Regions from separate parts of the Homo sapiens genome. Here regions 2, 3 and 4 are each reported to be linked to region 1. The links are microRNA targets in miRTarBase. Many come from high-throughput screens and were not tested one by one. Region 1 holds a microRNA gene; each other region holds the end of a gene's coding sequence.
The links. The annotated mature microRNA hsa-miR-6781-5p reads CGGGCCGGAGGUCAAGGGCGU and lies in region 1 at 966-986, opposite strand. An mRNA with a match to its seed (bases 2 to 7 or 8) in the 3' UTR can be bound and repressed. Matches are read on the target gene's strand: a 7mer-m8 pairs with bases 2 to 8, a 7mer-A1 pairs with bases 2 to 7 and ends in A, and an 8mer does both.

Region 1 (7,880 bases):
TTACAGGCGTGAGCCATCACATCCAGCAAATTCTTCAGACTTTAAGACTCTACTCCATTTACCAGCTGTTGGACCTTAGGTAAGTCACTTAACCTCTCTGTGCCTCGGTTCTTCATCTGAAAAATGATGTAATGACGGTATACCCCGTACGGGTTGTTACAGGGACTAAATGAAGTAATACGTGTAATGCACTTGGTATTACTATATAGTAAGTCCTCAAAAAATACCATTTATTATTATATATACATATTCCTTTTCTCTGAAACAGCAGGAGCAGAAAATAAGGATCTTTCTTTTGCTACTGAAAGCTCTCTTTTTTTGAGACGGAGCCTCGCTCTGTTGCCCAGGCTGGAGTGCAGTGGTGCGATCTCAGCTCACTGCAAACTCCACCTCACCGGTTCAAGCGATTCTCCTGCCTCAACCTCCCGAGTAGCTGGGACTACAGGCACGTGCCATCACGCCCGGCTAATTTTTGTATTTTTAGTAGAGAGGGGTTTCGCCATGTTGGCCAGGCTGGTCTCGAACTCCTGACCTCAGGTGATCTGCCCGCCTCGGTCTCCCAAAATGCTGGGATTACAGGCGTGAGCCACCGCGCCCGGTCGGAAAGCTCTCAGAAGTCCACAATGTCAGAATGCTTTATGTTTCCAAGGAGAAAACAGGGAGCCAGATGAAGTGACTTTCCTAGGTTCACACGATGAGTTTGTGGCAGACTACACAGCCACCATAAGAATTATATCACCAAAGCTGCCCACCTTCCACATTCTTGACCACCCTCTTTCCAAGGGTCTCGCTGACCTGTGAGTTCCTGGATGGTGACACGGTCCAGGATCTTGAAACTCGTGTCCAGTTTCAGGGGCTGGCTGCAGCGCTGGCACACGAAGCTCACCTGCATGGTGCTGTTGTTGGACGTCTTAGACCCTTCCATCCCTGAGGCCGTGGAAAAGAGGCAACATTAGGGAGAAGCGACGCCCTTGACCTCCGGCCCGGGGTTACCACATGCCTTGGTGACGATGGTAAAGGGAGGGAAGTCCCAACCTGCGCCGTTCCCTCTAGGAATGGTATGATACGGGGAGGACCTGCTTCCGGGACAGCCTGAGCAAAGGCAGTTTAGAGCCCAGGGTCAGGGAAGGGACTCCAATAAGAGCCGTGAGGGTTCCCAGACTCCCTTCTAAGGTCCCACCTCAGCCCCCGATGCTCTTCACCTCGGGAGCCCGGAGCCCGTCACCCAAGTCCGGTCTACCGCGGAGGCACTGTGGCCTCGGGTCGGCCCCGGAGCGAGGCCTCCAGAACTACCATCGCTCTGTCTTCAGCGACTTCCCGGTAGCCGCCGGAAAACTTCCGCCCGAGACCGGACGTGACGCTACGACGGCAGCAGGAGCTCCTGGTCCACAGGCTCACAGGCCCGGCAGCGGCCCCCAGAGGCCGGGCTGGGAAAAGCAGCGGGCTTCAGCGGATGAACAAGGTTACCACGGGAAGTGTAGGAGCCAAGGCCGCAGAGAATGGGGAGGCTCCGCTATTCTCTAAATTCAGGGGGCGGCGGGCGCGGTGGCTCACGCCTGTAATCTCAGCACTTGGGGAGGCCGAGGAGGGCGGATCACGTGAGGTCAGGAGTTCGAGACCAGCCTGGCCAACACAGTGAAACCCCGTCTCTACTAAAAATACAAAAACTAGCCGGGCGTGGTGGGGCACGCCTATAATCCCAGCTTAATCCCAGCTACTCGGGAGGCTGAGGCAGGAGAATCGCTTGAACCTGGGAGGTGGAGGTTGCAGTGAGCCGAGATCGGGCCACTGCACTCCAGCCTGGGCGACAGGGCAAGGCTCCATCTCAGAACAACAACAGCAACAACAAAAGGCCGGGCATGGTGGCTCACGCTTGTAATTCCAGCACTTTGGGAGGCCGAGGCGGGCGGATCACAAGGTCAGGAGTTCGAGACCAGCCTGGCCAAAATGGTTAAATCCCGTCTCTACTAAAAAATACAATTAGCTGGGCATGGTGGCGTGCGCCTGTAATCCCAGCTACTCAGGAGGCTGGGGTAGGAAAATCGCTTGACCCCCGGAGGCGGAGGTTGCAGTGAGTCGAGATCATGCCACTGCACTCCAGCCTGGGCGACAGAAGGAAACTCCATCTCAAACCCCCCCCCCCCACACACACACACAAAACCAACAAAAAAAGAAAGTGATATTCAAATAAAAGCTTGAAGAAGGTGAGGAAGGAATTCTTACCTGCATCTTAAGGAAGAGCATTCTAGGCCAAGGGAACAGCAAGAGCACAGAGGGTACCTGTTTGGGGATTAGCAGAGGCTGGTGTGGCTAGAAGATGGGCAACGAAAAGAGATACAGAAAATGGGGTGAGGGAGGTAAGAGTGTTGAGCTACCACCTAGGCTCTTATAGGGATTGTAAAGCTCTGGCTTTCACTTTGAATGAGATGAGATGACTGGGTCTTGAGCAGAGGGACTTACTTCATTTTTAAAAACAACTTTATGGGGTATAATTTACATACCATAAGACTCACACTTTTTAAATGTACAGTTCAATAATTTTTAGTAAATTTACACAGTTGCCCAACTATCACCATAATCCAGTTTTAGAACATTTCCCATCTCCCCTTGCAATCCCCCACTGTGGCCTCCCAAAGTGCTGAGATTACAGGTGTGAGCCAATGTGCCTGGCCAAAAGTTTTTCATTTCAATAAAGTCCAATGTTTATGCTTTTGGTGTAAAAGAAACCACTGCTTAACCCAAAATTGTATGTAGTATTGTCTATTTTATTTTTATTTTGAGACAGTGTCTTACTCTGTTACCCAGGCTGGAGTGAAGCGGAACAAACAAACATGGCTCACTGCAGATTTGACTTCCTGGCTCAAGCAATCCTCTTGCTTCAACCTCCAGTGTAGCAGGGACCACAGGTGATCACTACCATGCCCAGCTAATTTTTAAAATTTTTTGTAGAGATGTGGTCTCACACTGCACTCCAGCCTCGGTGACAGAGCGAGACGCCATCTCAAAAAAAAAAAGAGATGGGGTCTCACTTTGTTGCCCAGGCTTCTGCTTTTTAAATTTAACATTTTTCTATGTTGCTACACAGTTATTGTAGTTATCATGGCTACATTACACTACACTAAATGTACTGCCTTAGTGTATTTTTTTACCGCTGGAAATTCTACTATTTCCCCTGTGGGTGATTACAATAATCCTGCAATGAAGAGCTGGCTACTTATGATAGAGACTCATAACTGGGACTACAGAATTAAGAGTGTGTCAGCTATTTAATGTCTCTTCCTTAACACTGGGAATCATTTTCCAAAGTGCTTGCACATAACTATATTCTGCTTCCAGTAATGTATGAGGAAGCCTGTTTTCATATTGCCTTGGCCAGTATTGGGTATCATATATTTGGGGAACAAAAGCAAAAAATGGCACTTCCTTGTTATTTTAATTAGCATCATTGATTGCTGGTAAGGCTGAACTTTTTGCTATGTATTTGCTTATTGTAGTTACTTTTTTTTTTTTTTTTGAGATGGAGTCTTGCTCTGTTGCCCAGGCTGGAGTGCAGTGGTGCCATCTCGGCTCACTGCAACCTCTGCCTCCTGGGTTCACGCCATTCTCCTGTCTCAGCCTCCCGAGTAGCTGGGACTACAGGCGCCCACCACTACACCCGGCTAATTTTTTATATTTTTAGTGGAGACGGTTTCACCATGTTAGCCAGGATGGTCTCAATCTCCTGACCTCCTGATCTGCCCGCCTTGGCCTCCCAAAGTGCTGGGATTACAGGTGTGAGCCACCATGCCCGGCCTTTTTTTAAAAAAAAAAAAAAAAAGAGACACGGTCTCACTCTGTCACCCAGGCTGGAGTGCAGTGGTGCAATATCAGCTCACTGGAATCTCCGCCTCCCGGGCTCAAGCAGTAGTTACTTTTTTCTGAATTATGTTTGCATTCTTTGATTATTTAGGTATTGGATTATTAGTATTTTTCTCAGTATTTTTAGTAATTTTTCATGAATGCTTTAATTATTTTCCAGATGTTCAGGAAGTTTTAAATTTTCAAGTCAAATCTGCTTATTTTTCTTGATGACTTATACTGCTTAGAAAGTTATTCCCACCTCCAGAAGTGTCTTTCTTTTCTTTTAAATGTATGTGGTTTCTTATAGTTGGTATTGGATGTGATATGTGGAACTAGATTGATTTTTCTCCCGGTTTTGTGACTAGGGATAGTGTTTACAATCCTTCTTCCTCTTGGCTCTTTCAGCATGAAAGCCCCTTTAGGGGAGGTGACTGGAATCATCCCCAAAGAATTCTCACCTAGTCCTGGTGTGGCTGCTTCATAGTCCTGCGTTTCTTCCTGCTTGGCTGTCCCTAACATCTCAGAAACGCATAGAGAAGTAACGGGCTTCTAGAGAGGTAGGGGGTATAGTGTTACAACTGAGGATTTGGAAGTTGAGACCACCTGGTTCTTTACCATCCACTAACCATGTGACCTTATGCAATTTATTCAACTGTTCTGTGCTTTGTTTTCTTATTTACAAAATGAGATTAATAGTATACAGTAGTAAATATCATAAAGGGTAGTGTGATAAATGAGCTGATACATTTGGAATGGAGGGGAATGACTGTTACATAGTGAATGCTCTGTGTATCCTCACACTTGGGAAGTATATGTAATCAGTGTATGTAGTGCTTGAGGGATTGTGAATAATACACAACATATCCTCAGTCATCGATTCAACAGATGTTTATTGAGCATCTACTATGTGCCAGTCCCTATTCTAGGTCTGAGAGGATATACTGGTGAACTGCTCTAATAGTTTATATTCCAGAGGAGAGAATTTGACAGTAAACATGTAACCAAGTTAATAAGATAATTTCAGATAATGGCAGATATTATGGGTTGAATGATGTCCCCCAAAAGATGTTGAAGTCCTAACATCTGGGACTAACACATGGGAATGTGACCTTTTTTGGAAATAGGATCGTTGCAGATGAGGTCATTGATGTTAGCCCTAGACCAATATGACTGCGTCCTTATAAATAGGGGCAATCTGGACACAGAGACAGACATGTACCGTGTCTGAGGGAAGATGATGTAAAGAGACACAGGGTGATCTGTAAGCCAAGGAAGACCTGAGGCTACCAAAAGCCAGGAAAGAGGTCTGGAACAGATACTTCTCTGGCTCCCTTAGAAGGAACATGGTCCTGCTGACACCTTAATTTTGGATTTCTGGCATCCAGAACTCTGAGACAATATATTTCTTTGGTTCTAAGCCATCCACTTTGTGGTACTTTGCTACAGCAGCCCTAGAAAGCTAATACAGTAGGTAAGAAGGTGATGTGATAGAGAGTAAGTGGGGGCAGGGTGGGAGGAGCTGCTTCAACTGGGGGATTCAGGAAGGCCTATGTTATCTGGAAACCACTGAGGGTGGTAAGTAGGGAAGAGACTTGACTGGCTGACTTAAAAAGAAACTATTTACGGGGGGATAGAATACATAGGGGAAAAGACACAAATCATACATGTATTTTCAATGAATTTTTACAAAATGAACACGTCAATGTAACCAGTACCCAACTCCCTCTCCCATGCCACCCTCTAATTGATGCCCACCCTAAGGGCAAACAATATTGTCAATTCTAACACCCTAGATTGAGTTTTGACTGTTTTTTGAATTTCATGTAAATGGAATCATACATGACATACTCTTGTTTCCTTTCGCTCATCATGAGATTCACCCACCTTGTGTAGTTTTAGTTCATACATTCTCAATACTTTGTAGTATTCCATTGTGTGACTATATTAAAATATAGATATCTCTCTTGCTGTTAAGAGGCATCTGGGTAGTTTCCAGTTTGGTCTATTGTGAATAGTGTTGCTATGAACATTCTTGTTCATGTCTTTTGGTGAATATATTTATGCATTTCTCTTGGGTGGGTCCCTAGAGTTGAGGTTTCTGGGATCTCTCTCTCTCTCTTTCTCTTTCTCTCTCTCTCTTTAGGTATATTCAGCTTGAGTAGATGCTACCATCTCTGTGGCTGACATATTAGCAGATTATTTTGAGCTGGCCTGGTGTGCACCTGTAATCCCAGCTCCTCAGGAGGCTGAGGCGGGAGGATCACTTGAGCCAGGAGTTCGAGACCAACTTGGACAACATAGCAAGACCCTGTCTCAGTCAGTCAATCAATCAATGATAAATTTTGGTGCTGAGTGAAGAACAGAATGTGACAGTTGGTGGGGGGTGGCAAGAGTGGAAATGGAGAGACCAGATAGGAGCCTATTGTAATAGTCCTAGCAAAGGATGACAGTGGCTTTGGCCAGGGTAACAAGAGATGGAGGAAAGCACACTCATACAGGATGCATTATACAGGGAAAGCTGACAGGACCTGCTGATGGGTTGAATGTGGAGAGACGAGGAAAAGAGAGGAATCAAGGTTGACTGTTAGGTTTTTGGTTTGAACAACTAGGTGGACAGTTATGTCAATTACTGAGATGGAGAAGAATAGGAAAATAACAGGTGTGTGGGAGAATCAAGAATTCTGGTTTGGCCATGTTAAGTTTGATATGCTCATTAGGTTTCCAAGTAGAAACATCAAATAGATGGTTAGAACTCAGTGAAGATGTCAGATGGGAGATACGAATCTGGGGCCCTCAAATCAGCATACAGATTTTTTTTTTTTTTTTTTTTTTTGAGATGGAGTTTCGCTCTTGTTGCCCAGGCTGGAGTGCAATGGCGCGATCTCGGCTCACCGCAACCTCCACCTCCCCAGTTCAAGTGATTCTCCTGCCTCAGCCTCCCGAGTAGCTGGGATTACAGGCATGTACCACCACGCCCAGCTAATTTTGTATTTTTAGTAGAGACGGGGTTTCTCCATGTTCAGGCTAGTCTCGAACTCCCAACCTCAGGTGATCTGCCTGCCTTGGCCTCTCAAAGTGCTGGGATTACAGGCATTAGCCCCCGTGCGTGTCTGGCCGAATACAGATGATACTTAAAGCTATGAACATGCATAGATCCTCTTTTTTTTTTTTTTTTTTTTGAGACGGAGTCTCGCTCTGTCGCCCAGGCTGGAGTGCAGTGGCGCGATCTCAGCTCACTGCAAGCTCTGCCTCCCAGGTTCACGCCATTCTCCTGCCTCAGCCTCCTGAGTAGCTGGGACTACAGGCGCCCGCCACCACGCCCGGCTAATTTTTTGTATTTTTGGTAGAGACGGGGTTTCACCGTGTTAGCCAGGATGGTCTCTATCTCCTGACCTCGTGATCCACCCGCCTCGGCCTCCCAAAGTGCTGGGATTACAGGCGTGAGCCACCGCGCCTGGCCGAACATGCATAGATCCTCTTAGGGAGAAAGTGTAAGCAGAGAATAAAGGACCTAAGTCTCCTGAAGCATGCCACCATTAAGAAGTGGAGCAGAGGAGGAAGAGCCAGCAAAGGAAATGGGGAATCACTGTTGAGGCTGGAGAAAGATCAGAACAGGTTGCTGTGTGTATTTTAAGAAGGGGAGTGGCTAATATATTGAGTACTACTGAGAGATTCAAATAAGATGAGAGGTGACCACTGGTGTCAACATGGTAGTCATTGGTAACCTAACAAAAATTATATCAGTGAGAAAGTGGGGTTGAGAAGTCTGATTAGAGTGGATTGGAGTAAATGGGGCATGAGGAAGTAGAGTAAGAGACAATAAATAATTCAAGAAGTCTTGCCAGGAAGGAGAGCACAGAAAGGGAGTAACAGCTACAGAGGAATCTGGATTCGGGGGGGAGTTTTCTCAAGATAGGGGATATTGGTTATGTCTGGAAATGACCCAGCAGAGGATGTGATGTAGGAAAAAGAGGGGCTAATCATGGGCACAGACATGGGATTGAGAAAGTCAAAGGGGATGGAATCCAAAGCACAAAAGG
Region 2 (7,880 bases), not on the chromosome of region 1:
GGCGGGAAGAGGCCGGCGGTGCCGGCAGCGGTGTCCCTCTTGCCACCGGCGGACCCCCTGCGCCAGGCGAACCGGCTCCCGATCAGGGTCCTGAAGATGCTGAGCGCTCACACCGGTCACCTCCTGCACCCGGAGTACCTGCAGCCGCTGTCCTCCACTCCCGTCAGCCCCATTGAGGTCAGTCCCCGGCCGCTGCCCCCGGGCGCCGGCCCCATTCCTCCCACCGCGACCGGGACCCTGACCCAGCTCCCAGCGCCCCGGGGCTCGGTGCGACACCCAAGTCTGGTCACGCTGGCGGGCTGAGTGAGGAGGGGAAGAAAACCGAGGGATCAGAGCCCACCAGGGCTTCCCCAGGCTTCCCCGTGGAAGGGTCTCCTTCCACGCTCGCCCTTCGGAGCTCCGTGTTTTCTCTCGGATTGGATTTGCTCCTGGAGTCCCCTCTGGGTCCTTTACTTTTCCTCTGATCCCCAGTTTCCAGCCAGGAGTTGGTCTCTGCTGGGTCTTCCCCGCCCCCCACGCCGGGCTGTTTTCTTTGAAGCCCTGGCTGCCCGGGTCCCACTTCGCCTCTGTCCCATCCGGTGAGGGCGCACGGCGCCCTGGCGCTCCCGATCCCGGATCTTTCTTCCTGCCTCTTCCCTGGGTGCCCTCCCCGGGAGGGAGGGGCTACGGAGAGAGCGCCAACTGCAGCCCCTCCTTTAGAATCCGCGCTCCCCTCTCCTACCCCGCGGCGCCATCGCCAGAAACCCGTCCCAAGCGAAGTTCCCCCAAACTAAAGGAATAAGTTTTTTCCTGGGCCTGGAGGAGGGGGACATTAGAGGGAAGTGGCGAGTCACAGCCCCGACTCCAGAGACGTCACCTTCTCCCGCAGGGGTCCTGGGTGAACTCCTTCCGCAGGGCCTGCGGCGCACCCCGGGACCCAGCGGCAGTGTGGGCGCAGTTCCGCCAGCTGCCGCGCCCGGCCCGGCCCTCGCTCGCAGACCCTCTCCCCAGGCCCGCCCCGCCCCGTGGCGCCGCCGCCCAGCTCCCCGGGCGCCCCCGCTCGCCCCGCAGGCCTCTGAGTCTCACTCCTTCTCCCTCCCCCTGCTTCTGTCTCCCACAGCTGGACGCCAAGAAGAGCCCCTTGGCGCTGCTGGCTCAGACCTGCTCGCAGATCGGCAAGCCGGACCCGCCGCCCTCCTCCAAACTCAACTCGGTGGCGGCGGCGGCCAACGGGCTGGGAGCGGAGAAGGACCCCGGCCGCTCAGCCCCGGGCGCCGCCTCCGCAGCCGCGGCCCTGAAGCAGCTGGGGGACTCACCGGCCGAGGACAAGTCCAGCTTCAAGCCCTACTCCAAGGGCTCCGGCGGCGGCGACTCCCGCAAAGACAGCGGCTCCTCCTCGGTGTCTTCCACCTCCTCCTCGTCCTCCTCGTCCCCGGGAGACAAGGCGGGCTTCAGGGTCCCCAGCGCCGCCTGCCCGCCCTTTCCCCCGCATGGAGCGCCGGTCTCCGCATCCTCGTCCTCGTCGTCGCCCGGCGGCTCCCGCGGCGGCTCCCCGCACCACTCTGACTGCAAGAACGGCGGCGGGGTTGGCGGCGGGGAGCTGGACAAGAAAGACCAGGAGCCCAAGCCCAGCCCGGAGCCGGCAGCCGTGAGCCGCGGCGGCGGTGGGGAGCCCGGGGCGCACGGTGGCGCCGAGTCCGGGGCCTCCGGGCGCAAGTCCGAGCCGCCCTCGGCGCTGGTGGGGGCCGGCCACGTGGCGCCGGTGTCTCCCTACAAGCCGGGCCACTCGGTGTTCCCGCTGCCGCCCTCCAGCATTGGCTACCACGGCTCCATCGTGGGCGCCTACGCCGGCTACCCGTCTCAGTTCGTGCCTGGCCTGGATCCTAGCAAGTCCGGCCTCGTGGGAGGCCAGCTGTCTGGGGGCCTGGGCCTGCCGCCGGGCAAGCCCCCCAGCTCCAGCCCGCTCACCGGGGCCTCCCCGCCCTCCTTCCTGCAGGGATTATGCCGCGACCCCTATTGCTTGGGAGGTTACCACGGCGCCTCGCACCTCGGCGGCTCCAGCTGCTCCACCTGCAGCGCGCACGACCCTGCCGGGCCCAGCCTGAAGGCGGGGGGCTACCCGCTGGTGTACCCCGGGCACCCGCTGCAGCCCGCCGCGCTCTCGTCCAGCGCCGCCCAGGCCGCGCTCCCCGGCCACCCGCTCTACACCTACGGCTTCATGCTGCAGAACGAACCGCTGCCGCACAGCTGCAACTGGGTGGCAGCCAGTGGGCCGTGCGACAAGCGCTTCGCCACCTCGGAGGAGCTGCTCAGCCACCTACGGACCCACACGGCCCTGCCGGGAGCCGAGAAACTTCTGGCCGCCTACCCCGGGGCCTCGGGCCTGGGCAGCGCCGCCGCCGCCGCCGCCGCCGCCGCCTCCTGCCATCTGCACCTCCCCCCGCCCGCCGCCCCCGGCAGCCCCGGGTCGCTGTCCTTGCGGAATCCACACACTTTGGGCCTAAGCCGGTACCACCCCTATGGCAAGAGCCACTTATCCACAGCGGGGGGCCTGGCCGTGCCGTCCCTCCCCACAGCCGGACCCTACTATTCGCCATACGCGCTGTATGGACAGAGACTAGCTTCAGCCTCGGCGCTGGGATACCAGTAACTACAGCTCTTCCTCCACCCCAGCCCCCTCACCCTCCTCCCTCTCCCTCCTCCTCCCTCCCCACCTGCCGTCGCCGCTGCAACCTCCACTACTGCTTGACCCTGCCGGGATTCCCCACCCAGCCCTTCCCCACCGGACTGTGTATTTATTTACTATAATGTTAGCTTACAAGCTGGGAATATAAGTGCATTAACGGCCCACATGAGTCAATGGTATGCAAAAAGTCTGTGTTCTCCCAAATAATAATATTAATCCCACAAATAACGACATGATCCCCGCCCCTGTTCCTTTCTGTTATTTTTTCTTAGATATAAGTTTTACATTTTTTATTCCTTTTCCTCTTTTTTTGGTTTTGATTGGTTTGGTTTGAGGGAGAGTTGGGGTCTTTGGGTTCTTCTAGACGTTTTGTTTTCCCTTCCTGGGGAGTTTCTTGCATGAGTCTTAACTTAAAACTACGTTTCCGCCTTCTCTTTTTCCCTCTTCCCCCTTCATTCCCTCTTGTTTCCTTCCATTTGCGGTTCTGTTTTTGTTTTTTGTTTTGTTTTGTTTTGTTTTTTCCTTTGTTGTACAAGTAACAGAGAGGAGGTTTTTTTTGTAACTCATTTTGGGGGTGGAGGGGGCCACCTGGGTGGCAGGGGCCCTGGAGCTCTATTGACCTGGTACACTGCTCCGGGACTCCTCCCCCGCCACCCTCCGCGCATAGGGTCCTTGGTCTGGACCCTGCCCCCCAAAAGTAGGGCCTTGCTCCTCTACCTTGCTCTGAGCACGGAGAGCCCTGACCCCACCAGTAGGCTCGCCCCCAGAAGGGCCCAAGTGGCCGTCTACCGTCACCTTCCAGACTCCCGCCCCTAACACCCAGTGGCTACAGTGCGCCTGTCGGGGCACCTGGAGCGCTCACCTGGTTGAATTCAAAGTCCCAGAAGGCCCCGCTGGCGTGAAGCCGGCCCCTTACATTTTGCGAAGTGCATTATAGTCCTTGTTTTTCTCTCCCTCGTGGGGGCAACGACCCCTCCCCTGGCAGTAGGGGTGGGGTAGGTGACTCTCGCTAGATCCCTCCAAAGCAGACCGGTGGCGATGTCAGCGGATGTCACGAGCTCGTTAGCTGCGTTCGGGGAAGGTTGGGGCGTCAGGGAGCTCTCGGATCACAGCAGCCCCCGCCCTCTCCTAGGCCTGGCCCGGCAGAGCCCCCAGAGTGGACCCCCCAGCGACTGGGGTCTTCTCCCCACTCCTCCCTCCTTCTGGTCTGATGCGGCAGCGCGGGGGCTGCGGGGCCTGTTTGGGACGAACAGAGCTCTCCCTTGGTAAGACTTATTTTGTTAATAAATGGAATACTTGGCTATATTCACACCGTGGTGTTTTTCTCTCTTGCCTCGCCCACCCTCTTCCAGACACCTAAGCAGATGCCCTTCTTTTATTCTTGTTTAAAATGCCTTATGGTTTCCTTCTGTGATTTCCGTTCAAGGACGAGTTTAATGCCTTTCCTCAAGAAATGGGGGAGAAAAAACAAAACTTCTGCCAACGCATTACAAATAACATAAAACCACCTTTTAATTTTTTTCCCCAGTTGGTTATGTAGCTCCCAGCCTCACTTCAAAGGCCTTGACATTTCCTGGGGCCAGGGTGGAGGGTGTGTGTAAAAGTGGATTTTCCTCTGGGCCCAGATGCGACGTGCTAAGGGGGCTAAGAAGGGACCCCAGGACCCCAGCACCAAGGGCTCCGGCAGAGACTCCAGCAGCGCAGTCCTGGAGCCCGGCGGCCTGGCGGGCAGAGACGAAACGCCTTTGGCGCCACCTGGTGGCAGGAAGACGAGCGACAGGCCTCGGAGAGAAGGCGCAGCCCGCACTAGCCCCGACGGCACCTTGGTTCTTCTCATCTTCTGAACGCGAAGGATTCCTACCTGCTGTTTTTGTGGGGCGTTTCCTCTCTCCTGACCAGAGGGTAAAGGCACCTGCTGAGAGGGTTGCTTCTCAAGGCTTGGGGGCTCCCCTCAGCCATCGCTGGGTTGTCGACCTGGGTCATCTGCGCCCCGGAAACTTCGAAACAGGGTTTGGGTTTTGCTGAGAAGATGCGACGATGACTCAAGACCTTGAAGCCATTCTCAGTCCGGAGGAGCCGGGCCCCTGGGCCTGGCTCGTCCATTTTCTTGAGCTCGCACGACTGACACTGGCCTCTGCATCCTCGGGCAAGAGAGGGCGGGTGCTGTTTACTGACGTGTTGGCCAGGGAGCCTGCCCCCTGTACCATAGACAGGCCCTGCGCGAGTGTCCAAGGCGGGAGGAGAGAAGGGACAGCTCTGGGAGGCCCAGCCACGTCCAGCCCAATGCAGACTCGCTGCCCTACCCCCAGCAGCGAGAGCGGGCTGCGCCCGCCAAGGCACGGCGGCTCAGACTTCGGCTGCCCGACGCCAGGACCCCGCTCCATCGGGCCGGGGGCGCTTGCTCCCTGCGCAAGGGCCTGGGCGCGCGGGGCCAATGGGACGCTCTGCAAAACCGCCTCCTGCGCCGCTTCCTGGCCGCGCTCCTCGTGGGATCTGTCGTTGGGGTTGTGCTGTTTGCTTTTTCTGTAAGGAATGCGACTTGGGAGTTCGTGCTCTGAAAGGTGCATGCTTTTGAAACGTCTGTGGCCCGAGGTCAAGTGCAGTGCGTAGGATGGGGCCGGTTTCTCTGCGCTGTTTTTGGTTGTCCACAAACTCGACGACAGACAGGGCGTGTGTGTGTGTGTGTGTGTGTGTGTGTGTGTGTGTGTTTGTGTGTGTGTGTGTGTGTGTGTGTGTGTGTGTGTGTGTGTGTGTGTTTTACCAAATCTTTGGATCTAGCAAAAGGAAAGGGATCCTGGGGTGCTCCTACCACTGGGCACTGGGAAACCCGAATTAGAGAAAGTGCCCTGAGACCAGATCAGGGTCTTCCTGGGAAACCAGCATTATCCAATTTCTCGGGGTTCAATCTGGCCCGAATCTTTAAACGAACTAAATGTAGCGACTCGTGGCTTTATTGTTTCTTTTTCTGTTGTTTTGTTCGTTGTTTATTATTTCTTTGCCATCTTCCCTTCCTCTGAAGGCCCCTCTTTCCTTCAGAGACCCACCCCCTCACTATGTTTTTTAATGCCTGCTAAAAATGATGGAAATTGCTCCCTCTGTAGGGCGACTTAAACTTTGCTTTCTTACACTTCAAGTCTTCAGACCTCCCTATCTACAAACCAAAGGGCTCCTCTTGTTGGGAGGAAGGAAGGAAGGGACGCACAACCAGCAAATTCCCTATACCAAAAGAAACTGTTCTAAAAGGTGTTTGGCTTATACCTTAGGTGTAAGAATGCAGTTAGAGAACTCCTTAGACTACAGAGTTTCCCCCATAAAATGTATTGGTGGCCTTTGGTGACTGGGAAGTTCACTGTTGGGCCTGGTGGGAATAGGCTGCCCCCAACTACCATTGTGGCCGCAAAGGGCAGGTCACATAGTCTGGAGTGTCCAGTTCTACTCTGAAAAGATGGCTCTCCCCACCTAAGAAATGTGACAGTTTTAATAAGCTGATGAAAAGTTTGTTACTTTCAATAGCTTAATTCCCATTAAACAAAGTTGCCATCTTAATGGAGGTGGTGCTCCCCTATCCAGTGCTTATTTGAATAATTAATGCCTCCAGCAACCCTTTCTTTGAGGGTCACCTCCACCTTCCATTTCTCCACCTCCTCTTCCCAGCCCTCCTCCGCCTCTTTCTCCTAATCTGTCCCAGGCGCCAGAAATGGGGCCGGTGTTCCCAAAGCACCAGGAAGGGTGGAAGCCACAGGGCTGGAACTTGAGACACTGGACGTTCCTGGCTCCAGGTCCTATTTTCACACCTCTTGCCTGGTTATTTTTGTGGCCTTGTGGCAGCCATGGGAGGAAGGGAGGAGGAGAAAGAGGGGAAAGACTCACCCTTGGATATAGGCTGGACTCAAACAAAATCATGTGGTGTTAAGTTTTTAACTTCCCAACTGTACACCCGCAAACCCATCTCCTAAGAAATTCATAGCCCAAGCGGGAGGTGTGGGGCCCTTCCCCATCTTTCTGCAGCCATAATTGCTCTGCCCTACCTAGCATACTGTGATTGTATCTCTGGGTATATGAACTAACTCCCTCCTGATGTATGTCTGGGTTACGGTGGAATTCATCTTACAATAATCCTGTGGCTCTACACTTTATTAATCATTCTGTAGGGGAAGCTGCACTCCAGTTTTCTGTTTGATTTGATTTCATTCATCCTGTCTTTTTGCAAAATAGATGGTTGAGTGCATCCGATAATGTATGGTTTAATTTGGAGCACTATGGGTTTGAATTACCATTTTCATAATGTGCTGTGCATTAATGTGTTACATCATTTACAAAGAGGAATGTGCCGGGTTTCAAACTTTCTCCTGAAAGCCAAAGTCACCTAAAGGAAACAAAGCCAAATCACATCAACCCATCTTCTTACCTCCCTGCCAGAGAGCCTCCTGCCTCCCCAACCCCAGTTAAATCTGCCAAAGCTCATAAAACCCAACATGAAGCCTTTGTATTCACATAATGCAGGTGGGTGTCGAGGTTTGGGGGAAACTTTGCACATGGCTGCCCGGGAGCCGTCAATGGCAGTACAAAGCTCCCCCTCATTATTGCATAACAACAGCTTTGCAGCCAACCCGGTTTTCATTTTTTTTTTTTCGGAGACCTCCAGTGGATGGCTCTTCGTCGACCCTAATCCCAGCACTCCCTCCCCAATGGCTGTAATAACACCAGCTGTCTGTTACTCAAACTCTGACTGAGGAGGAAAAAGCACTGATTATCCAAATACAGTCATTAAAGGGGAAATGTGTTTTTAGGACTGTCAGAGTGATTAATGAGGGCTAGCCGTCTTTGCAAATGCACTTGTTTAGTCTAACTGGCAGCTTCTATTTTCCTATTGATTTATTGCAGCCGTTGCCGGGCCTTGGTGTGTGCGAAGTCAGGGCACTTCACAACTGGGCCCTGTTTAAACAGGAAAAGCATGCACCATTTTATCCAGGAGGGAGGGAACAGCCTAAAGTCTCTCCCTTCAGTTCAGTCTCCAGTGGCCCGGACCAACAAAGAAGACATTAAAAACCTGCAGCCCGGAAAGGGAAGGAAACTGCCTCTCCTCGGTCGTCCCTGGTCACTCGGTTCCAAGGTCAGTGGAGACGCACCATGGCCCCTGGACAAAGCCCGCCCTATTGTGACTCTCAGCATGCCCACATTTTCTCCGACAGTCCCCCGAAACCAGCTGTCAGCC
Region 3 (3,000 bases), not on the chromosome of region 1:
AAAAAAGAGCCCATTAGACAAAGGTTGGCAAAAACGGAGTAATCCAGTGTGAAGATTTTGTGGGAATCCGTGTCATGGTGTCTCTAACTTTTGGGCCACTGGCTCATTTCCTTTCCTCTTGACTGATCAAAATGTGTTTACAGCATGCTAGTTGCCATCAGGTGTCTGCGCCGGGGCAGGCGTGGGCAGTGGGAAGGACCTCCTCTAACTCCCTCGTGGTGGCCCCCAAAGCTGGGCAGGGCAGTATCCCAACTTGCGGCAACTCCAGGGCCGCATGCTGACCCTTCACTCATGGGGTCTTTTCCTTTTCTCTCCCAGGTGTTCCACTGTGTCCACTTTGAGTGTCCAGAGCAGCAGAGCAGCCAGAAGGAGGAAAATAGTGAGGAATCGGGGACAGGGGACACCAGCCTGGCCGGTCAGCAGCTCGACTCCCATGCGCTGCGGGCGCCTAGTGGCAGCTCACTACCCTCCAGCCCAGGCTCCAACTCACGCTCCCCCAACCGGCAGCACCAATAAAGGAGGCAGCGGGCCTGGTGTGACTTGGTGGGCTCGGGCAACGGCAGGAAACGGTCTCCTCCCTGAGCAGGGGTCTCTGTTGACTGCCCCCACCTCTGCCCCTTTCCAGGGAGGAGCCGACCTAGCTGCAAAAGCAGACACCGAACAGGTTTTCTCCCAAGGACAGAAAGGGGCTGCTTTGTTCTTCTCAATTTATCCAAATCAGGCAGGTCTCAAGGGGGAGAAAATGGGTCTTCAATCTTCATCAAGTCCACCATTAACACCCTACCTCTCTAATCTAGCCCAGGCGCAGGGAACAGGAGGAAGTCATAGACAGGCCTGTGTTGGAATACAAAAATGGCACGCAAACACTCAGGCGGAGGAGAAAGCCATTGGGCCTTTGCTACCTGGAGGCACCCTTTAGGAATGGGCCTCCATAGAGTGTTCATTCTGCTGGAATACATTGCCCTGGCAACTAAATGATTTTTTATTTGTTTTAGTTATTCTCCACTCAGTGAATCATAGGTGTTCCGGATCTATTTGAAATGCTCAAACAGCAAATCACTAGTTTTAATCCCTTTTGATGCTATAATTTTCCTTCCTTGGTTTTGAACGGTTCAGCTTGCGGGGACAGAGACCCATCGTGCATGTCTCCTAAATGAGACACGGATGCAGCTCATCCTGGCACTTGGGCCACAGAGGAAGTGCCACAAATGCACACAAGCAAATCAACCTGTGGACACTGGAGTTAATAGTCACTCGTGTGGCTGAGTTACTCACCTGTCATTCCTGACATGGATCCAGCCTTTAAGCTTGGGAGGCTGACAAGGAAATAGTTACTATGCCCGCTGCTAATTCACTGTTCCGAAGTCCATGTAGATAAACATATACCGAGTTCTGGCGTGGCCAAACCTGCCGGGGACTGCCGTGGCTTAGCTGCCCCTCCAGTTGTGTTTATCGAAGCATTGGAGAGGCAGCCACCTGCCCATCAGCGTCAGGAACGCAGAACTGGGACTCCGTGCTTCCCCCACACCACAGTACTCAACTGGGGACTGAAAAATAGCAGTTCCAAGAAGCTTTTCTCCTAATCCTCATCAAAAGGACCTCATTTGACGATGGTGGCTTGATGTGGCTCCGTCTCCTACTTAGTGATTTCCATTCCAGTGCTGCCTGCCCTGGGTAACTGCGCACAACATTGCCTGCCCCTCCGCTGTCCCCAGAGCTCCGGCCTCTGTCGCCATCAGCATCAGCCTGGGAGTCTCCCCAGGACGGCATGGCACGTGAGCAGCACTGCAGTCCTTGGGTCTTCGGCGCCAACCTGCAACCCTGATCAAAGGAGGGTGAGGGCGTGGGAGTTTCCTTTCAGGTGTGTCAAAGACATATCAGCTGCGCTCTAGAAAGAGCCAACGGGTCAGCCGCTTCCTCCTAGTTTAACTTGATTTTGAGTGATTTGTCCATATGGAAATAGTAGGGTAGCATCAAACTGCGTGATTAAATTGGAAGACTGTCTTTCCGTGTGAACACAGGATGGCAGACATCAGAGGGCTACCGGGGCAGGGTGGACACGTTCCTGAGGAGAAGCCAGGGTCTGCAGCTCTCCATCCTCCCCGGTAGCTCCAGCTGCAGGGCTGAGCTGCTTCCTATCCCCTCAGCTCTGATCTCTGCCACTTCCCTGTTGTGTGGGAGAGTGGAACACTCCTGGGATGCCAGGCATTTCATAATGGGAGGAGGCTCCTGTAAGGAACGGTGGGCGCCCGCTCACAGTGGGGGGCCCTCCAGCATGGTTGCTGACTCTGTCAGCCCCCAGCCCCGGGTTGCCAATTAGCCAGAGAGCTCCTGCACACACAGCACTTCCTTCCCCAGTGTGTTTTCTACCCAGATGGGGACAAAGGAGCCAGACAGTCATATCAAGGGCAGAGTTCAAACATTTTGAAATGAGCCATTCACATGCTTCTTTTTAAACATGGGCATCACCTGCCCAGAGGCCCTTGGCCTGAAGCAGCATGCTGCTGACCTTGGGAAGAGAGGGTGGGCTGGTGGGGGTGCTGGAGGAGCTGCCCGGCCCTGCATCTGCAACCCTCCAGTCCCCTGCCCACAGAGCACGCAGAGCCCTCCTGTGCTCCGGGAACGAGATAGCAGCTTGGCAGCTCGGCCTCGCATCTGAAAAGGAATACGCTGCAAAGCCTCGGCCCTAGACCCACATCTGCAGCTCCCTGGCCTGTGGCGGTTCTTTCCTTCGGGGCATGCCCTTCCAGATCTCTGTCCCTCCTGTCTTCTAGCACTTTAAAGATGCCCCTTATCATCAGATAAAGAGAAGTATGGGGACGATGGGGTGGCACTAACAGTAGATGTCATTGGTGAGGACTGATGGCAAAGTCTCATTCCCTCACAGCCGCGCTGCCAGCTCGCCTCCCCCTCGCTTTGCTGGGAGCCTGCCCTGGACTCCAAAAGGACACGGGTTCACCTCCTTTCCCAGGCTGGAGGGGTACTGCCCTTCCCTGAGGG
Region 4 (7,880 bases), not on the chromosome of region 1:
GCACAGTAGCAAAGCTACATGGAAACAGGGGGTCTCCTCCTATGCTACCAGAGAGTAAAAATCAGCACAGCCCGTTTGGAGAGCAATTGGGGTGAACCTATCAAATGACCTGTTACAGATACATGTACCCTTCAGCCCAGAGATTCATTTCCAGGTACTTACCCTCCACATGTATGTGAAAATGCACGTGGGCAAAGACATTCTTTCATCTTCATTAGGAGGAGCCACGCAGGCCTGGTTAAGTAACATAGGATGCACCCACATAACGGGATTCCACACAGACTATACACAGAATCACCTCCAAGATGCACTGATAGCAAGCTGCAGAACCACATACGGTGTGATCCTAAGACATCGAAAAAACCAGTTATATCCTCACAAGTACGTGCATGAAATTTATTTATGTATTTATGTGTTTTATTTATTAATTTGTTTCCAATATGGAGCTTCGCTCTGTTGCCTAGGCTGGAGTGCAATAGCACAATCTTGGCTCACTGCAACCTCCGCCTCCCGGGTTCAAGCGATTCTCCTGCCTCAGCCTCCCAAGTAGCTGGGATTACAGGGATGCGCTACCACATCGGCTAATTTTTTGTATTTAGTAGAGATGTGGTTTCACCATGTTGGCCAGGCTGGTCCACCCACCTCGGCCTCCCAAAGTGCGGGGATTACAGATGTAAGCCACTGTGCCTGGCCTTATTTCTTTATTTTGAGATAGGGTTTGTTCTGTTGACCAGGCTGGAGTGCAGTAGCTAGATCTTGGCTCTCTGCAGCCTCAATACCTTGGGCTCAAGCAATCCTCCCATCTCAGCCTCCCAAGTAGCTGGGATCGCAGGTGTGATACCTACCATGTCCAGGATATTTTTCTTTTTTTTTTTTTTGGTGGAGATGGGGGTCTCACTATGTTGCTCAGGCTGGACACGAACTCCTGGCCTCAAGCAATCCTCCTGCCCTGGCCTCCCGAAGTGCTGGGATTATAGGTACGAGCCACTGCGCCTGGCCGGGTTCATTCCTTTTCAATGTTGAGGAGTGCTCCATTGCCTGGAGGGGCCAGAGTTTGTTTTTCTATTCATTTTTGAAGAATATTTAGGTTGTTTCCAGTTTTTGGTGAATAAAACCACTATAAACATTCGTGTGGCCAGGCATGGTGGCTCACGCCTGTAATCCCAGCACTTTGGGAGGCCGAGGTGGGCGGATCATGAGGTCAGGAGATCAAGACCATCCTGGCTAACACGGTGAAACTTGTCTCTACTAAACAAAATACGAAAATTAGCCGGGCGTGGTGGCAGGCACCTATAGTCCCAGCTACTTGGGAGGCTGAGGCAGGAGAATGGCATGAACCTGGGAGGCGGAGCTTGTAGTGAGCCGAGATCGCATCACTGCACTCCAGCCTGGGAGACAGAGCAAGACTCTCTCTCTCAAAAAAAAAAATTCTTGTGCATTTTCGTTGTTTTTCTGTTTACAACTACAAGGTAAATGTCATTCATTCAGGTGTTTTGTAACATCTTTGTTGACATATATTTACATACCATTCAATTCACTTATTTAAAATGTATACTTCGGCCAAGCGCGGTGGCTCACGCCTGTAATCCCAGCACTTTGGGAGCAGGAGGGGGGTGGATCACGAGGTCAGGAGATTGAGACCATCCTGGCCAACATGGGGAAACCCTGTCTCTACTAAAAATACAAAAATTAGCTGGGCGTGGTGGCGTGCGCCTGTAGTCCCAGCTACTTGGGAGGCTGAGGCAGGAGAATCCCTTGAACCCGGGAGGTGGAGGTTGCAGTGAGCCGAGACTGTGTCACTGCACTCCAGCCTAGCGACAGAGGGAGACTCCACTAAAAAAAAAAAAGTATACGGCCGGCCGCAGTGACTCACACCTGTAATCCCAGCACTTTGGGAGGCCAAGGCGAGTGGATCACGTGAGGTCAGGAGTTCGAGACCAGCCTGGCCAACATGGTGAAACCCTGTCTCTACTAAAAAAAACACACAAAAAAATTAGCCAGGCATGGTGGCATGTGCCTGAAGTCCCAGCTACTTGGGAGGCTGAGGCAGGAGAATCGCTTGAACCCGGGAGGTGGATGTTGCAGTGAGCTGAGATCATTGCGATCATGCCATTGCATTTTAGCCTGGGCAACAGAGCGAAATTCCCTCACAAAAAAAAAGAAAAGAAAAGAAGTTAAGAAAGACAGAAAAGAAAAGGAAAAGAGAAGAGAAGAGAAGAGAAGAGAAAAGAAAAGAAAAGAAAAAGTAAAGAAAGAAAAGAAACCCAAGCCAGGTTCAGTGGCTTGCGCCTGTAATCCCCGCCCCTCAGAAGGCCAGGGCATACCAAAGTTATTGAAATAAGAAATCAAGAAAGAGAGAAAAAAAAAAGAAAGAAAAACAAGTAAAAAGGAGGCTGAAGCAGGAGGATTGCTCAAGGCCAGGAGTTTGAGACCAGCCTGAGCAACATAGCGAGACCCTGTCTCGAAGAAAAATAATTTTAAAATTGGCCAGGTTTAAAACAGGCACAGTGGTTCACGCCTGTAATCTCAGCACTTTGGGAGGCCGAGGCGGGCAGATCACGAGGTCAGGAGATCGAGACCATCCTGGCTAACGTGGTGAAACCCCGTCTCTACTAAAAAATACAAAAGATTAGCCAGGCGTGGTGGGCACCTGTAGTCCCAGCTACTCGGGAGGCTGAGGCAGAAGAATGGCGTGAACCCGGGAGGCAGAGCTTGCAGTGAGCCGAGATTGTGCCACTGCACTCCAGCCTGGGCGACAGAGCAAGATTCTGTCTCAAAAAAAAAAAAAATTAAAATTAAAGTTTTTAAAAAAATTGGCCAGGTGTGGTGATGCACACCTGTAGTACAAGATACTCGGGAGGCTGAGGGAGGAGGATCACTGGAGCCCAAGAAGTCGAGGCTGCAATGAGCTATGATCACACCACTGTCTGGCAGACAGAGTGAGACCCTGTCTTCTAAAAACAAAACAAAACAAGAAAGAACCCCAGTACCCTTTAGCTATCATCTCCCTCCCATTTCCCCTGGGTTCTGACAACCCGTCATCATTTTCTGTCTCTCTGCACTTGCCTTTTCTGCATGTTTCCTATAATGGATCATTCAATATCCGGCCTTTTGTGTCTGGCTTCTTTCACTTAGCTTAATGTTTTCCAGCTTCATCCATGTCAAGTGTTACAGTAGCTAGTTAGGCACATTTTTTTTTTCTTTTTTTTTGACGAAGTTTCACTCTTGTTACCCAGGCTGGAGTGCAATGGCGTGATCTCAGCTCACTGCAACCTCCACCCTCCAGGTTCCAGCAATTCTGCTGCCTCAGCCTCCCAAGTAGCTGGGATTACAGGCATGCGCCACCACGCCCGGATACTTTTGTATTTTTAGTAGAGACGGGGTTTCACCACGTTGGCCAAACTCCTGACCTCAGGTGATCCGCCTGCCTCGGCCTCCAAAAGTGCTGGGATTACAGGCACGAGCCACTGCACCCAAGCTCTGCTCCCAATTCTTGACCTCTTACATCAGATTTGGCACAAAACTGTCCCATGCCCCACATATTAAATGATCCTATTTATATGAACTGCCCAGGCAAATCCAATAAGACACAAAGTGGAGTAGTGGTTGCCAGGTGCTAGGGGAATTGAGGGGTGATGGCTGAAGGATAAGGTTTCTTTTTGGGGTGATAAAAATATTCTAAAATGGGTTGTGATGATAGTTACCCAACTCTGTGAATATAACAAAAACCACTGAATTGTAATACCATAAATGGGTGAATTGTATGTATCCCAAAAAAGCTGTTACCACCATCCCCCAGGTTCTCCAAAATGAAACATCCTTCCCATAGCGGGCATCAGACACAGAATAAACCCGAGCAGGCCCTGTGTGATCGGACTTCCCCTCCCATCCCCAGTCCCACTCTGAACCATCTCGAACCCCCTTCTGCTTACTCTGTTCCAGCCACACTGGCCTTCTTGCAAGTTCTGCCTCAGGGCCTTTGCACTTGCTGTTCCATCGGCTAGAATCCTCTCTCTGGTTAACTCGGCTAGCAGAGTGTGATTTTGACCTTAACAAAACCAATCTCCCCTCCCCTCCCCTCCCCTCTCCTTTCCTTTCCTTTCTTCTTTTGAGACAGGTTTCACCATGTTGGACAGACTGGTCTTGAACACCTGGGCTCAAGTGATCCGTCCACCTCGTTCTCCCAAAGTGTTGGGATTACAGGTGTGAACCATCATGCTCGGCCCAAATTCTTTTCTTTTCTTTTTTTTTTTTTTTTTGGGACAAAAAGAGTCTCACTCTGTCGCCCAGACTGGAGTACAGTGGCACTATCTCGGCTCACTGCAACCCAGCCTCCTGGGTTCAAGTGATTCTCATGCCTCAGCCTCCTGAGTAGCTGGGATTATCGGTGCCCAACACCACACTTGGCTAATTTTTGTACTTTTAGTAGAGATGGGGTTTTGTCACGTTGGCTAGGCTGGTCTTGAACTCCTGATCTCAAGTGATCTGCCACCTTGGCCTCCTAAAATGCTGGGATTATAGATGTGAGCCACTGCGCCCAGCCCCCAGTTCTTACATAGACACCATATAAGTGGCAGGCAGAATAATAGCACGCCCTAAATGTCCACATCCTCATCTCCGGAACCTGTAGATGTGTTGTCTTACACAGTAAAAGGGACTTTACAGTTGTGATTACAGTCCGGGTCTTGATATGGGGAGATGATCCTAGATTATCCAGGTGGGACGAATGTAACCACAGGTGTCCTTATCAGTAAAAGCAAGCGGCAGGAAAATCAGTCAGAGCCAGAGAGAGAGAGACTGGAAGATGCTCCGCAGCTGGCTTGAAGGATGAAGGATAGGGTTACATGCCAAGAACAGGAGGCAACTTCTAGAGGCTGGAAAAGGCAGGGAAGGATTCTCTCCTAGATGGTCCAGACAGCTCTGCTGACAACTTGATTTTAGCCCACTGAAACCCATTTCAGATTTCATTGAGAATAAAATTGTGTTGTTTTAAGCCGCTAAGTTTGTGATAATTTGTTACAGCAGCAATAAAAAACTAACATGCTAGTTTATATTTATAAAAAGAGGCTGAGCACCATGGTTCAGGCTTGCAATCCCAGCAATTTGGAGGCTGAGGCGGGCGGACCATTTGAGCTCAGGAGTTCGAGACCAGCCTGGCCAACATGGTGAAACCCCGTCTCTACTAAAAATACAAAAATTAGCCGGGCATGGTGGCAGGCGCCTGTAGTCCCAGTTACTCGGGAGGCTGAGGCAGGAGAATCACTTGAGCCTGGGAGGTAGAGGTGGCAGTGAGCCAAGATTGTGCCATTGCACTCCAGCCTGGGGAGTGACAGAATAAGACCCTGTCAAAAAGAAAGGAAGGAAGGAAGGAAAGAAACTGACAGGGGCCAGGGTGTTCTCAGCTTGCGAAGGATGCCAGGCATAGGTGTGGCCAGCAGCCCCCACACTCTGCTCTCAGTGGGCATCGGGGGCCCCTTAACTTCAGAGGGCCCTAGAAACACTCAGGGGTGGCTTCTATCATCACAATGGCCAGAAGGCCACTTCTGGCACTTGGTGGGTGGAAGTCAAAAGTCCATCCACTTCTGGAGCAGCCTCACAATGAGGGATTGTCCTGGCCCAAATGCCAGCAGTGCTGTTGCCAAGAAACACAAATCATCAAGCCCAGTGCCTACATTTCCAACAACCACCGGGGCGAGCAGATAAAAATGAGGGTTCTGGAGCTACCCACCTGGCTTCAAAACTGGCTCAAAACAAACCTGGCTTGGCTACTGACTAGCTACAGACCTTGGTCAAGTCGTCTTTTTTTTTTAGATGGAGTCTCGCTCTGTTGCCCAGGCTGGAATGCAGTGGCACAATCTCGGCTCACTGCAACCTCTGCCTCCCGGGTTCAAGCAATTCTCCTGCCTCAGCCTCCTGAGTAGCTGGGATTACAGGTGCATGCCACCATGCCCAGCTAATTTTTATATTTTTAGTAGAGACAGGGTTTCACCATGTTGGCCAGGATGGTCTCAATCTCTTGACCCGCCTCAGCCTCCCAAAGTGCTGGGATTACAGGCGTGAGCCGCTGCGCCCAGCCTGGTCAAGTCTTTTAATGTTCCTGAAACATTCCTGGAACAATGTTCTCACTTGGAAAATGGGGATAATAACAGTCCTGTCCTTGGCCGGATAGAGTGGCTCACGCCTGTAATCCCAGAACTCTGGGAGGCCAAGGCAGGAAGATCACTTGAGCCAGGAGATCACTCCAGCCTGGGCAACAGAGCAAGACTCCATCTCAAAAAAAAAAAACTTAGCTGGGCATGGTGGCACGCACCTGTAATCTCAGCTACTTTGGAGGCTGAGGCAGGAGAATCACTTGAAACTGGGAGGCAGAGGTTGCAGTGAGCCGAGCTAGCGCTATTGCACTCCAGCCTGGGCAAAAAGAGCGAAACTCCATCTCAAAAAAAAAAAAAAAAATTAACCAGGTATGGTGGCACACATCTGTAGTCCCAGCTACTTGGGAGGCTGAGGTGGGAGGATCAACTGAGCCCAGGAGGTCAAGGCGGCAGTGAGCCATGATCCTGCCACTGCACTCCAGCCTGGGCAATAGAGTGAGACCATGTCTCAAAAAAAAAAAAAATAGTCCCAGACTTATAATCTAGTGAGCTTTAAGTAAGGTAAGACATGTCAATTGCTTAGAACAATGCCTGGGAGAGGGTGAGTGCCCTTCAGCATTAGCTGAGTATTGTTATTTTAGTAGCAAGTGCCTGGAATCTAAACCCATCACCCCTTCCAGCCTGGGGGCCCTTGGTGAGCAGGAGCAGGTCTGAAGAGCACCTGGGTGTCTCACCTTGCTCAGCACAATGAGGGGCGTTTGTTGACTGACTGACTGATGGACTGAAGGCAAGGCATCCTAGGTATCTGGTTCCCAGGGGAGACAGGCAAGGGCTCAAAGACGGCAAGGCCAGGCAGGACCACAGGTTTATTGGGGACTCCACGCACAGACGCTTATGGCATCACACGACAACGGCACGGTTACTCGGGACACACACGGTGGCCTCTGCCCACAGCCAGGGCCCAGAGGCAGTGGGGTGCAGTCTCCTCCCTTGTGGCCCAGACCCAGCTGGGTCCCTTCCTCCTAGGCAGCTGAGGGAAGGACTGCTGGGTTGGCCACGGGCCTGGGAAGGGGAAGCGAGCAGGCGAGTCCAGGAGGGGCCGGGGCCGGGGTGGGGCTCGCCTGCCCTCACTCCAGGGACTGTAGCATCAGCAGCTGTTTCAGCACCTTCGTCTGGCTGGTCTCTCGGATTTCGCCAGCCAGGAACATCTCGTCCACGACCGTGTAAACCTGTGTGAGGGGAGACCCTGGGGTGAGACGAGGCCCCCCAGGATGCTGGCCCGGACCCTGGAAGCTGGGGCTCTGATGCCCCTCGAGCTGGGACACAGACCTCAGCAGAGGCTCCGGGTGGCTAGTGCACCACGGGTCCCCCCCGTCCCCCTCCTCTGGCTCCTTCAGCCTCCTCTTCACCAGGAGCCTACCTTGTAGAAGTTGAACACCAGGTCCAGTTCACAGACATTGTGGAAATATTCGTTTAAGACCTGGGAGAGGAAGGCAGAGATGGTAAGAGATGGGCAGGGAGAGAGCCACACACGCACAGAGATGGGAACAAGGTCATCAGAAAGAGACAGCAAAAAAAGAGACCAAGGGGGAGGCAGGGGAGAGAGAGAGACAGTGACAGGGAGAGAGGCAAGGAGACACACAGAGAGAAACAAAAGCAAAGATCGATGCAAAGAGATGGCAAAAGGTCAGGCGCGGTGGCTCACACCTGTAATCCCAGCACTTTGGGAGGCTAAGGCAGAAGGATGACTTGAAGTTAGGAGTGCAAGACCAGCCTGGCCAACATGGT

Region 2: the mRNA of ZNF703 is a reported target of hsa-miR-6781-5p. Seed matches in the 3' UTR shown: 7mer-A1 at 2,823-2,829 and 7mer-m8 at 3,570-3,576.
Region 3: the mRNA of BTBD9 is a reported target of hsa-miR-6781-5p. Seed matches in the 3' UTR shown: 7mer-m8 at 2,554-2,560.
Region 4: the mRNA of AP2S1 is a reported target of hsa-miR-6781-5p. Seed matches in the 3' UTR shown: 7mer-m8 at 7,195-7,201 and 7mer-m8 at 7,189-7,195.

The regions. Positions count from the first base shown.
Region 1 is chr17:42,822,953-42,830,832 of GRCh38, forward strand. MIR6781 (microRNA 6781) reads right to left here and starts at 991; the gene lies at 928-991. BECN1 (beclin 1) reads right to left here and starts at 1,330. Exons shown (of 12, transcript NM_001313998.2): 1 at 1,203-1,330; 2 at 796-927. The coding sequence starts at 925. RefSeq lists enhancers at 557-1,123, 1,124-1,692, 1,559-1,688, 1,693-2,259.
Region 2 is chr8:37,696,046-37,703,925 of GRCh38, forward strand. It overlaps ZNF703 (zinc finger protein 703), which reads left to right. Exons shown (of 2, transcript NM_025069.3): 1 at 1-177; 2 at 1,100-3,974. The coding sequence ends at 2,629. Among named protein-coding and RNA genes, the nearest start is that of ZNF703, 4.2 kb to the left of the region's middle. RefSeq lists enhancers at 1-125, 126-668, 3,102-3,613.
Region 3 is chr6:38,172,501-38,175,500 of GRCh38, reverse strand. It overlaps BTBD9 (BTB domain containing 9), which reads left to right. Exons shown (of 11, transcript NM_001099272.2): 11 at 319-3,000. The coding sequence ends at 516. LOC124901315 (a long non-coding RNA gene) reads right to left here and starts at 323. Exons shown (of 2, transcript XR_007059571.1): 1 at 1-323.
Region 4 is chr19:46,831,228-46,839,107 of GRCh38, forward strand. AP2S1 (adaptor related protein complex 2 subunit sigma 1) reads right to left here. Exons shown (of 5, transcript NM_004069.6): 4 at 7,513-7,572; 5 at 6,940-7,321. The coding sequence ends at 7,220. Among named protein-coding and RNA genes, the nearest start is that of SNAR-E, 4.5 kb to the left of the region's middle. RefSeq lists an enhancer at 6,982-7,482.